Linked DNA regions of Homo sapiens. The protein of the gene in region 1 purifies or fractionates together with the protein of each later gene. This does not show direct contact. Each region holds a gene or a part of one and is shown in the gene's direction. Other genes may lie near its edges.

Region 1 (3,751 bases):
GAGGAGCAGCGATGGGCCGCAGGGGACGCCGCGGGCCGGGCAAACAAGCTGGCCAGAGGTGGACACTGCGCACGGCAGGGATGGAGACTCAGGCGCGACTCCCAGCACCTCCTGGCGGCAAGCCGGGCAGCGAGGGCTCCCAAAACAATGCAGCCGGCGCGCGGAGCGCGGGGGCCGCCAGCCACTTCCGGGCGTGCGGCAGCGCGGGGCTCAAACCAGCCAGACCAGCTTCGGGCTCCTTGAACTCCCAACAAGGGGCTCTGCGGGGAGGAGGCGACCCCAGCGGAGGGCGTTGGGGATTTAGGGGTTGGCCGGGGCCGGCGGGGGGTTGGGGGGGCGTGAAAGCGAGAGGGCCCTTATCCCACTCCCAGGCCCAAGTCGTAGCATCTCTCAGAGCTCACGCTCTTTATTAGCTCTTTCTTTTGGTGTGCTTCTGTTTCCTTTGTGGTTTCATTGCAAAGTAGTTTATGTTGGGAAGGGGGCTTTTAGGCCTCTTGGTGCTTTCGTTAGAGACGAAAAGGCCCTGAACCAATTTGGGGAAAGAGAGGCCTTTTGCAGCTACCCCGGGCCCTTCCCCAGCAGAGCACCCGGAAGCTGGGCTCTTAGGGACGCAGATTCTTGGAGTTCAGAATGTGCATTCTCTCCAGATGACGATTTTCCTGGCGTGTTTACGGTCAGCAGATAACACTGAGTGGGCTTTTGCCACCCATTCATTCATTACCCGGCTCCTCTAAGCAGCTGGACCGCAAAGTGTGCCTGATAACTTGGGCCTGGGAGCCGCCAAGGCCAACGCATCTTCCGGAAGGAGGGAAATTAGGAAGCCGGGGTCTGAGCCTGTGAATGACTCTTAAGTGGTCGGGAAGTAATAACAATGCGCCCACCTTACATATGAAAGAACTTCGCCCTCCGGGGATTATCTCTTTGGATCTTCACAGCCACCCGGAGACAGCGGCTGAGGAGAGCGAAGGCCTCCTGTCCCCATAGGGAGACTAGGGACAATTAGGCAAAAGGAGCCCACCCCCCAACCCAGAACTTACTGTTTGCAGTCAGAGACACTAGATCCCAGGCTCCACGAGAGCAGAGGCCGGCCTGTTTGTTCATTTCTGCACATCCAGCGCCCAGCATGGTGCCCCCTGGTACGTAGGGGATGAATGAGCTAATTCTAGCCCTCGTGGATCTCTAGGCAGGACTCCTTCCTCTACCTCGCTCCCTCCCAGCCTGCCCATCTTTTGTGCCCGTCTTTTGTGCCGGCCACCAGTCTTTACAAACAGTGCCCTGGGGGCCCATACTCCAGCTTTCCAGAGCGCACAGCTGCAAGGGCGGCTGTGTGTTAGAGCCCGTGATGCCTTCGAGTATTGAGTCATGCCATTCATTTAAGAAGGAAAAATCTCTCCAAAACGGGGAAATGGTGGGCAGTCCTGTGTGACTGGTGAGACTCTTGTAGGGGCGTTTCTACAACGACGAAACCCTTCCTAGGCACTCACTCCAACAGAATAACAAGCCCATTTTATTAGTATTTCGTTTTCCATGTAAAGTTCTGCTCATACGAATATATTTATAATTCTGATTTTTTTACGGCATTGGGGAGCACACCGACAGGCTGCTGAACGGTGGCTGGAGATTCGAGGGAAAACGAAGTTCGCCGAGGCGGCCTCGGGCGGGCAGGTCCCGGGCTCCATCACAGGGCACACGCGGCTACCAGGGACGCAGCCCCCCAACACACACACACACACACACACACACACACACACACACACACACACCCTCTCCCACTCATGCCTGGCAACCCAGCAGAAACTTCGGACTGGGGCAAAACAAGCCCGGGCCCCGGCGGCACGCGGGGCTAGGCGCGTTCCCGCCAGTACCTGGTCGCGAGGCCGCTCGCGGGGTGCCCTGCGTGCCCCCCACTCCCGCAGCCCGCGCCCTGCTCGCTCACTGTGGGGGCGCAGCGGCCAGGCTTCTCTGTTTGTTGTTTAAAGAAATCCTAGGGCGGGCGAGCGGCGGCATCTAGGGGAGGGGGCGCAGCCAGAATTCCCTTCCAGCAAGCGCGTGAGGGGCATTCTCAACGCAAAACCAGACCCAGAAAGTAGTGACCAGCCCTCCTCGGATTACCCTTCATTGGCTCCTCCCTTGCTCCCCCCACCCTCCAGATTTGCATAAAAAAGGCCAAGAAAACTCTGGCTGTGCCCCAGCAACGGCTCATTCTGCTCCCCCGGGTCGGAGCCCCCCGGAGCTGCGCGCGGGCTTGCAGCGCCTCGCCCGCGCTGTCCTCCCGGTGTCCCGCTTCTCCGCGCCCCAGCCGCCGGCTGCCAGCTTTTCGGGGCCCCGAGTCGCACCCAGCGAAGAGAGCGGGCCCGGGACAAGCTCGAACTCCGGCCGCCTCGCCCTTCCCCGGCTCCGCTCCCTCTGCCCCCTCGGGGTCGCGCGCCCACGATGCTGCAGGGCCCTGGCTCGCTGCTGCTGCTCTTCCTCGCCTCGCACTGCTGCCTGGGCTCGGCGCGCGGGCTCTTCCTCTTTGGCCAGCCCGACTTCTCCTACAAGCGCAGCAATTGCAAGCCCATCCCTGCCAACCTGCAGCTGTGCCACGGCATCGAATACCAGAACATGCGGCTGCCCAACCTGCTGGGCCACGAGACCATGAAGGAGGTGCTGGAGCAGGCCGGCGCTTGGATCCCGCTGGTCATGAAGCAGTGCCACCCGGACACCAAGAAGTTCCTGTGCTCGCTCTTCGCCCCCGTCTGCCTCGATGACCTAGACGAGACCATCCAGCCATGCCACTCGCTCTGCGTGCAGGTGAAGGACCGCTGCGCCCCGGTCATGTCCGCCTTCGGCTTCCCCTGGCCCGACATGCTTGAGTGCGACCGTTTCCCCCAGGACAACGACCTTTGCATCCCCCTCGCTAGCAGCGACCACCTCCTGCCAGCCACCGAGGAAGGTAAGCCTTCCCTCTTGCTTCCCCACTCCCTGCTGGGCTGAGACGCTCCCAGGAGATCCCGCCCCTGCCACGCATCCCAGTGCATCCCTGCTTGGGGTGCCAGTAGCGGGAAGGGCAGAAGTTCTGCCTGACCTGGTCTGTCATCACAACAAGCCTGTATCAAATTTGAGGCACCCCTCCCACGCCGCCCAAGTCTCGCGCATTCTCCTCCCGAGTTGTACCAGCTATACTTAAGGGCAGTTTAAAAATAAAACAAACAAACAAAAACAACAAAACTAAAAAAACGAAGAACTGAACGGCGGTTTAAAAAAAAATAGATACACGATTATTGTTAAAGATGCTAGCACTGGAGCTGCGCAGAGCGTTGGAAGTGGTGTTTGGTGGAGGAGTTTGTGGTGAGCATTCTGGCCAGAGGCCCCTCGCTCAGCCTCATTCTGCACCTTCCTACCACTGGGCAGGATTCTAGTCACAGGAACATTTCCTGTACAGAAAGGAAAACCAGGATGCACAAGTAGATAACCTTTTAAGGGTCTTTTTGTCCTTTGTCAATTTAGATTTTGGAAATAAAACCGGGACTGGCACGGAGTGTGTGGAAAATTGAACATTGGTTGTAACTGCTCAGATACTTGAGGAAGAGGGCATAAAGGGAATCTCTGGAAATCACTTTTCTATTGCTATCAGTTTTTAACTTAGGAGTGGTTTTGATTAGCTGGAGAAAATCATGCAAAAGAGATTCCCAAGTTTTTAGAAAACGGAGGGAGAGTTCCTGTGCAAAAACCATCAAAGCAATGAAAACCTCATGGGCTCTCAATATTT
Region 2 (3,751 bases), on another chromosome or scaffold:
ATTCAGTTATAGGGAACACATTTTTACTTTGAGACTAAAAAAAGGCCTTTTATTTTTGTGTGCTTAGAGATTGCCTGTATTTTACTTTTTTTCTGAAATTTACACCTAATTTAATAATTAAATACACTTATTTAAATAATTCATAAAATTACATATACTCTTATACATAAAAATATTTTGTAAACTGCTAATCCCTGTACTCAAATGTTTATTTTTGTATCTAATAATGATGCTAGTTACAATTTAGTGAGCACCTAATATATGCAAGATGCTTTTTGTATACAGTTTTGTTTAATTCTTGGTACATACCTGTAAGATAGGTATTTTATATATGTTTTGTGGAGGATGAAACTGAGGTCCATACAGGGTAAGTAGCTTGCCCAGGGTCATATAGTTTTCCAGAGGCTTGCCAGGTTTTCTGACTTAAAAACTATTGCATTGTGACTTTAATAACAGTCACCACTTATTGAGTACTTTCTATTCTTCAGGCACTGTACTGAGCATTTAGCATGTGTTCTTTGATATAATAGTCTTCACAAAAACCCTATGAGATAAATATTATTATTCTATTTTAGAGCTAGGAAAAGTGAGATTTAGGGAGGTAAGTTAACTTGCCCAGGTCTAAGAGTTGAAAATGTAAGAGGGGCAGGGCAGGGTGGCTCACACCTGTAATCCCTGCACTTTGGGAGGCCAAGGCAGGAGGATCACTTGTGCCCAGGAGTTTGAGACCAGCATGGGCAACACAATGAGACCCCATCTGCAATAATAATAATGATGAGGAGGAAGAAAATGTAGGTGATAAGGTTCTCATATTGGGCCTTTTGACTTCTGTTACGAAAGCTGTTCATTATTATACATGGCTATTGTATATGTCTAATTGAGATTACAGATAAGCGCTCTAAGGTTAGAACAGCAAGAGAGGGAAAAATAGATTTTATCTTGATGTTTAAGATTTTAGTATACTCATATGAGAACTGGGAGAAACTTTGAAAGTATTTTTTACATATTAGGTAATTTCATTGGTATAGAATGATTCTTATCTTGTTTACATATTATTGAATGACTTAGATAATTTAGATGATAAAATCTGATAGATTTTTAAGTGTGTTTACCTTTTTCCTGTTAGTCTTATTACTTAAAATCAAATAGTACTTAAAATAGTACCTTGTGTCAACATGTGATTGATTCATGGTTCAGAGTACAAGTGTTATGATTTGACAACTAGAATAGAAGGTGAATTTATTTCAACTCTTTTCAAAACTAATTTTAAAATTTCACATTTAAAAATGAATATAGGCTAGGCACGGTGGCTCATGCCTGTAATCCTAGCACTTTGGGAGGCTGAGGCAGGACCATCACTTGAGACCAGGAGTTTGAGACCAGCCTGGGAAACATACCCCATCTCTACAAAAGAAAAAAAATATATAAATATTTATATATTTTTATTACATAAAATATATGTGCATAGTTATATATTATTATGTTAAAAATATGTAAATATATATATATTCTTTTCTTCTTTGTCTCTACAAAAGAAAAAGACAGCATCTCGTCAATACCCCATGTCTAAGAAAAAAATAGACACTTTTTATATCATATATATTAAAATATATTTTATATATCTTTTAATATATATTTTGATGTAAAAAATGCTCTATGTTTATTATCGAATATTTGTAAAATATGGACCCACAGAAACAAAATTTAAATTACCCTTGATATCACTACCTAAAGATTACTAGTCACCCTTTAAATACTGTTTATTATCATTCCAGATCTTTTACTGTAGATGTATGTATTTTTCAATTTACTGTTGTCCTGTTTGCTGTTCTGTATTTGCTTTTTCCTCCTTAACATATAGTAAATACTTCCTTATGTTATTAAATATTCTTCTATATTGTATTTTTTTTCTTTTTTTTTAAAGGGACAGGGTCTTGCTCTGTCACCCATGCTGGAGTACAGTGGCATGATCATAGTTCACTGCAGCCTCGACCTCCTGGGCTCAAGCGATCCTCCAGCCCCAGTTTCTCAAGTAGCTGGGACTACAGGCACATGCCATCACGCCTGGCTAATTTTTTTTTTTTAGATGGAGTCTCGCTGTGTCACCCAGACTGGAATTTAGTGGCACCATCTTGGCTCACTGCAAACTCTGCCTCCTGGCTTCAAGCAATTCTTGTGCCTCAGCCTCCTAAGTAGCTGGTATTACAGGCGTGCACCACCACGTCTGGTTAATTTTTGTATTTTTGGTAGAGACACTGTTTCACCATGTTGGCCAGGCTGGTCTTGAATTCCTGACCTCAAATGATCCACTTGCTTTGGCCTCCCTAAGTGCTGGGATTACAGGCATGAGCCACCATGCCCAGCCAACCATGCCTGGCTAATTTTTTAAATTTTTTTGTAGAGATGGGGTCCCACTATGTTGCCCAGGCTGGTCTCCAGCTCCTGGGCTCAAGTGATCCTCTCACCTCAGTGCCCCAAAGTGCTGCGATTGTAGGTGTGAGCCACTGTGCCCAGCCAAAATTTATTATGGATACATTATATTCCATGTAATGACTTTATGTCATTTTGTTTAATTGGTCCCGTGTTATTAGACATTTAGGCTTTGTGGTTTTATTTTATTTTCATTTGTGTTTCTTGTTATTTGACTATTATGAGTCATGAGGTAGTTTTGCTTTACAGAAATTTTTTTTTTTTTGAAACGGAGTTTCGCTCTTATTGCCCAGGCTGGAGTGCAATGGCGCAGTCTCGGCTCACCGCAACCTCTGCCTCCCGGGTCCAAGCGATTCTCCTACCTCAGCCTCCCAAGTAGCTGGGATTACAGGCATGTGCCACCATACCCAGCTAATTTTTTGTATTTTTAGTAGAGACGGGGTTTCTCCGTGTTGGTCAGGCTGGTCCCGAACTCCTGACCTCAGGTGATCCGCCCACCTCGGCCTTCCAAAGTGTTGGGATTACAGCCACCACACCCAGCCTGGAAAAAAATTTTGAACTCATTGGTGATAAATTCCTAGATGTTGAGTTGCTGGATTAAAGGTATCAGTTTATTTTCCTTCTATCTGTGTAGACTACTCTGAGTTCATTTTGGCATTATCCTTGGTAATTTGGAAGAAAACATATTTAAATCAGAGACAGGTCCGTAGAGATGTCTAGAGGATGCTTATATAATTCAAAAGTGATAATGCTCCCAATAACTTTTTTGTTTCTTCCTTCTCTATCCCTTTACTTTAGCTTTTAAGTGAATTTTGATTTTATTAATCACATATAGTTGAAAAATAGAATATATTTATTGTATTTGGTGTACAGATAATGGTGGTTATGAAAATGGATTTGAGGTCTTGTTACAATAATTCTGTAGGCTCCTGCAACCCAGAATTTGTGAACCACTAGTTTGGAGGCATGCAACTCCCAGGAGACCGGATACTATTATGCCCTTCCTTTTCTCCCTTTTCTCCCTATCTTAAACTGAGATTTAAGGACACTGGCCCTGTTTGGGAACCTTACTGGCCACTGAAAGTTCTGTGTTTTTCAGTCTGGGACTCTTAGAACTTCAGAAAAATAAAAACACTCAAGATGGAAGAAATGTACTCAGGATGAGAATTTGAGTCTACAGAGCTGATTCCTAGAATTAGATATTTGTGACTTTTGGCAAGTTATGATTCTTTTCTGAGCGTCAGTTTCTTGTGTAGAAATACTTTTTATCTTGATCAAATGTTGAGAGGTTTATGTACAATTTTTTGGGCACATGGGTAAA
Region 3 (3,751 bases), on another chromosome or scaffold:
CCCCGCTCGGATTTCAGCCACAGCAGCAGTGACAGTTCTGTGCAAGCTCAGATTTATGCTGCCTATATCCCACCCTAAGATGAAACCTGCAGACTCTGCTTTTTTGTATCAGGTTAAAGAAGCCCGTTCTGTTCTGGGCACAAATATAATCCAGGAGGGCAGGGAGTTAATAGCCCTAGGGAAATCCTCAACCAATACATATGGTATTGGTGGATGAATGCTGTAGCTTCAAGATGGACAATCCAGAGAGGTATTCTGTATGTTTTCAGAGGTGATTGAGGAATAAACAGTGGCATCAATAATGGACAATTATCTTGAATATTTATTCTTTCTTTTTTCACTCTCCCTGACCTATCAATTTTGTTCCCTGAAAGCACTTACTAAATAAACAAAATGCACCCAAATCTTCGTCCCAGGCTCAAACTAAGCCAAAAATTCGTACAACAAACATTTACTAAGTGACTGTGCTAGGCACTGAGATAGACAACCTAGAAGATAAAACTCCCAGTGCCTGTCTTGAAGTGTATAGTGAGACAAACACGGAAACAATTAACAACAACAAAACCACCCTACAATTAAAGTGAAGTATGAAGGCATGGGGGAAAGGGTATCTAACCCATGCCTGGGGGAGACAATTCCTGGAGGATGTATTGCTTGAGCTAATGGATGGAGTGTGGATCAAATACAGTTATAATGACTCTATATACTATGTATTAGGGTTATGTTCTGCCCCATTGCAGTATGCAGTACATGATGTGATTTTAGGTGGTCCATGGATGGACATTTAAACTTTTTGTAGTTAATGTGTACTAGAATAAAAATAAGGAGCACAACAAACTTGATTTCACAGAGTATTATGGTTTAGGATAAAGCCAAAAATTTTTAATGAGTTGAAATTGGCTTTAAATAAAAATATTGAATGAATAATAATACCTAGGTGCAGATTGGCAAAGATTGTGTAGGTGGTGTACAGATTACCCAAGTTTCAGAAATAGTATTATAGCAGAAGGACTACCTAAAATAAAATTCCTGCCTTCCAGGAATTCAACAGTTTGTTAAGGAACACAGACCCATAAGCAGGGGTGGTAAATGCTACACTAAATTTGGAAACCAAGTACAGGAGGAAGACAGGAAAACAGTGAGGAGCAGAGTGCGGGAGAGGCTACCAGCTACAAGACCAGTTGGAAGGCTATTGCTGTAGTCCAGGGGAGAGGTTACAAGAGCCTGAATTAGGGTGTGGCTATAGAAATGGAAGGAATACAAGTAATGTTAACAGGCCAATTGCAACCATACTGTGAAAACCTTACTGGTTGCAAGCAGTACGAAGGTGAAACTTATCCAACCAAGTCAAGGGCAGTGTTGCACACACACACACACACACACACAAAGTAGTAGGACAGCTGAATTAATCAAGTATAATTGAAAGCATACTTTTATTTAGCTTCGGTTATGAGAGTGTTTTAGTGCGAAATATTTAGATATTTGCCCCCATTTTCCCCACTTAACTCAGAAGCTGGAGAAATGTTAACACATATTGTATAACGCTTTCTATGTTCTAGGTTTTTTCTGAGAGCTTCACGTTTGTTGACTCCTCTATCCTCATTAACCTTTATTTTATAGATGAGGAAACTCAAACAGAAGGTTAGATAACTTGCCCAGGGTAAAGCAGCTGATAAATCAAGTAGCTAGGAAGAAACCCAAGCATTCTGGCTATTCTTAACACTACACCAGAATAAACGGGGCCGGCACACAACGCTAAGGCAAGTCACGTATCTGTATCGGATCGTGAAACAATCACTCTTACGGTTGGCAAAGGTTCTGGGATCGCAATTTCCCCACCTATAAAATGGAGATAACGACGCCGGGAGTTTGGTGCAGAGAGAGAGAATGAATATGAAAGTGAACTTCAAACTATGTATGTGGCTCCACGTACTACTTTTTCCAAATATGAATACTGGAATCCATAAACTGCAATTTATCAGTCCGTAAAACTCGTAGCGTCAGGGCGAGACTCCGCCTCTGGGGCCCCGCCCACCGCGAGCGGCAGGTGGGGCCGGCAGATCTTCTTTGCGCATGCGGAAACCGCTGCCCGCTTCCACCTCTAACCCAGGCTCAGAGTAGCTGCTGTTTCTGAGAGAACGATTCGTAGGACAGCCCCTGACGCCATTCCCTTTTGCCCTTCTTTCTGCGGGCCTTTCCGGTACTTGAGCGGTGTCCAGAGCGTGGCCAGTTCTCGTCTATCTGGCTGCCTTTAGGGAGCGGTGCCTAGCGTTGGCCAATAGTTGGCTGTCGAAAGTGCCGGCCCCCGCGCCGGCGCCTGCAGCAGCCGGGTGGGAAGGCTCAAGATGGCGTGCTTGTTGGAGACCCCAATCCGCATGAGCGTCCTTTCGGTGAGTGACCCGCCGCGGCCGCCCGCCCGCCCTCCAGGAAGCCTCATCCCGGTCTCCACCATTCCCCCAAGCGTGGTGTGCCTCCTGGGCACCACCCCCTGGGGTGGACCCCGGCTCAGTCTCGGGCCAGGGAGTGAGCGAGGGTGGAGAGGCGGGATAGACGGGCAGAGGGGACCGCGGCCGAGCCAAAGACGTTTCCAACTCCGGGAGCTCCCGCCGGTGCGGGTTCCCAGGATGGCGTCTGGCAGGCGGGGTGGCTGGGCTTATAGACAACTGGCTGGGCGGCGCGGCTTGGACTTTGCCAAGCGTTTCACTGAGCCTTCCTTTTAGCGATGCCGCTTCCCGGGGGCCGAACGCTCTGCCTTGTGAAGCGCCGGGCTTGCAGCCGGCCTGAGAACGAGCGCCCACTCAGCTCTCCCGGGCTTTGGCAAGAAGAGGTGCAGGCTCCTTGGCCCCCATTTCCTCAGAGCTGCCAGGCCAAGTCTGTGCGGCTTCTATCGCGTCCCAGCACCTGGGCACCGGCTGAAGCAGTTTGCTTTTTGGCAATGGTGATTCGTATCAGCTGCAACTCTTCCTAGTGTGTGTGGTTTTTTAAGCCCCTTTCCTCCGCTCTGCTCAGAGGTCGCGGCTCTGAGTCAGAGGAACTCTATGTTCCCTGTGCCTGGTATTCCGTTTTTCTTTAAGGGGAGTCAAACATTGAAGGGGGGAAAAGGGGGTGAGATTTATTTCCCCATTGTTGAAAGAAGGGAACGTATTGACATGCCAGGAAGTAAAACCTGTTTTTTTTTTTTTTAAAAAAAGTTTTTTTAAAGAAAAAGACGACTTTCACCTTTCACTATGTTGCTCTTGAACCAGGACCAGGAATGAAAGTTACTGGGAGATAACTTCGAAGGATTTTGCAACAAATTCGAGCTGTCCGACTCTGAGAATGGTCAGTTTACCAATGGTTCATTTGCTATTGTTGGAAACAAGCAGGCAAATACTGATTGACCATCTTTTAGACTTGTGGAAGCCAGTCTGATACTGAGAGGGTAGTTGGATTATAAATGACTTGTCGGGTTCCTAGAGTCTTGTAACTACAACCGGTTTCTTTTCTCTTCTCTGACTTGTCCCACAAACAAACTCACCTATCTGAAAACACCTAGGACATTTGCTTATGATTCAGGGTTAGAGCAGTGTGGCAGACCTCAACCTTGAAAAGGCTTAAGTTGTCAATACAATAATAATTTTGTGAGGCTGTCAACAGATTTTTCCCCTGATCCATTTTAGCAGTCATTTTTTCTTATTTTTAAACTGCAACTAAGGAAATACTGTTTACCTAAGTATTAGATCAGATTAGCCTGTTACTCCATCACTGACTG

What was found.
Region 2: the proteins of SFRP2 (region 1) and MKLN1 purify together in Homo sapiens (affinity purification with mass spectrometry; 4 studies listed by BioGRID and IntAct, with this or other methods). This does not show direct contact.
Region 3: the proteins of SFRP2 (region 1) and ARMC8 purify together in Homo sapiens (affinity purification with mass spectrometry; 3 studies listed by BioGRID and IntAct, with this or other methods). This does not show direct contact.

What each region holds. Positions count from the first base shown.
Region 1 is NC_000004.12:153,787,518-153,791,268, reverse strand, and holds the start of SFRP2 (secreted frizzled-related protein 2 precursor), read left to right. Parts: upstream 1-2,185; 5' UTR 2,186-2,433; coding exon 2,434-2,935; intron 2,936-3,751. UniProt on the Homo sapiens protein: Soluble frizzled-related proteins (sFRPS) function as modulators of Wnt signaling through direct interaction with Wnts. They have a role in regulating cell growth and differentiation in specific cell types.
Region 2 is NC_000007.14:131,330,859-131,334,609, forward strand, and holds part of MKLN1 (muskelin), read left to right. Parts: intron 1-3,751. UniProt on the Homo sapiens protein: Component of the CTLH E3 ubiquitin-protein ligase complex that selectively accepts ubiquitin from UBE2H and mediates ubiquitination and subsequent proteasomal degradation of the transcription factor HBP1.
Region 3 is NC_000003.12:138,185,210-138,188,960, forward strand, and holds the start of ARMC8 (armadillo repeat-containing protein 8), read left to right. Parts: upstream 1-2,091; 5' UTR 2,092-2,345; coding exon 2,346-2,390; intron 2,391-3,191; exon of another isoform or gene 3,192-3,318; coding exon of another isoform or gene 3,319-3,321; intron 3,322-3,751. UniProt on the Homo sapiens protein: Component of the CTLH E3 ubiquitin-protein ligase complex that selectively accepts ubiquitin from UBE2H and mediates ubiquitination and subsequent proteasomal degradation of the transcription factor HBP1.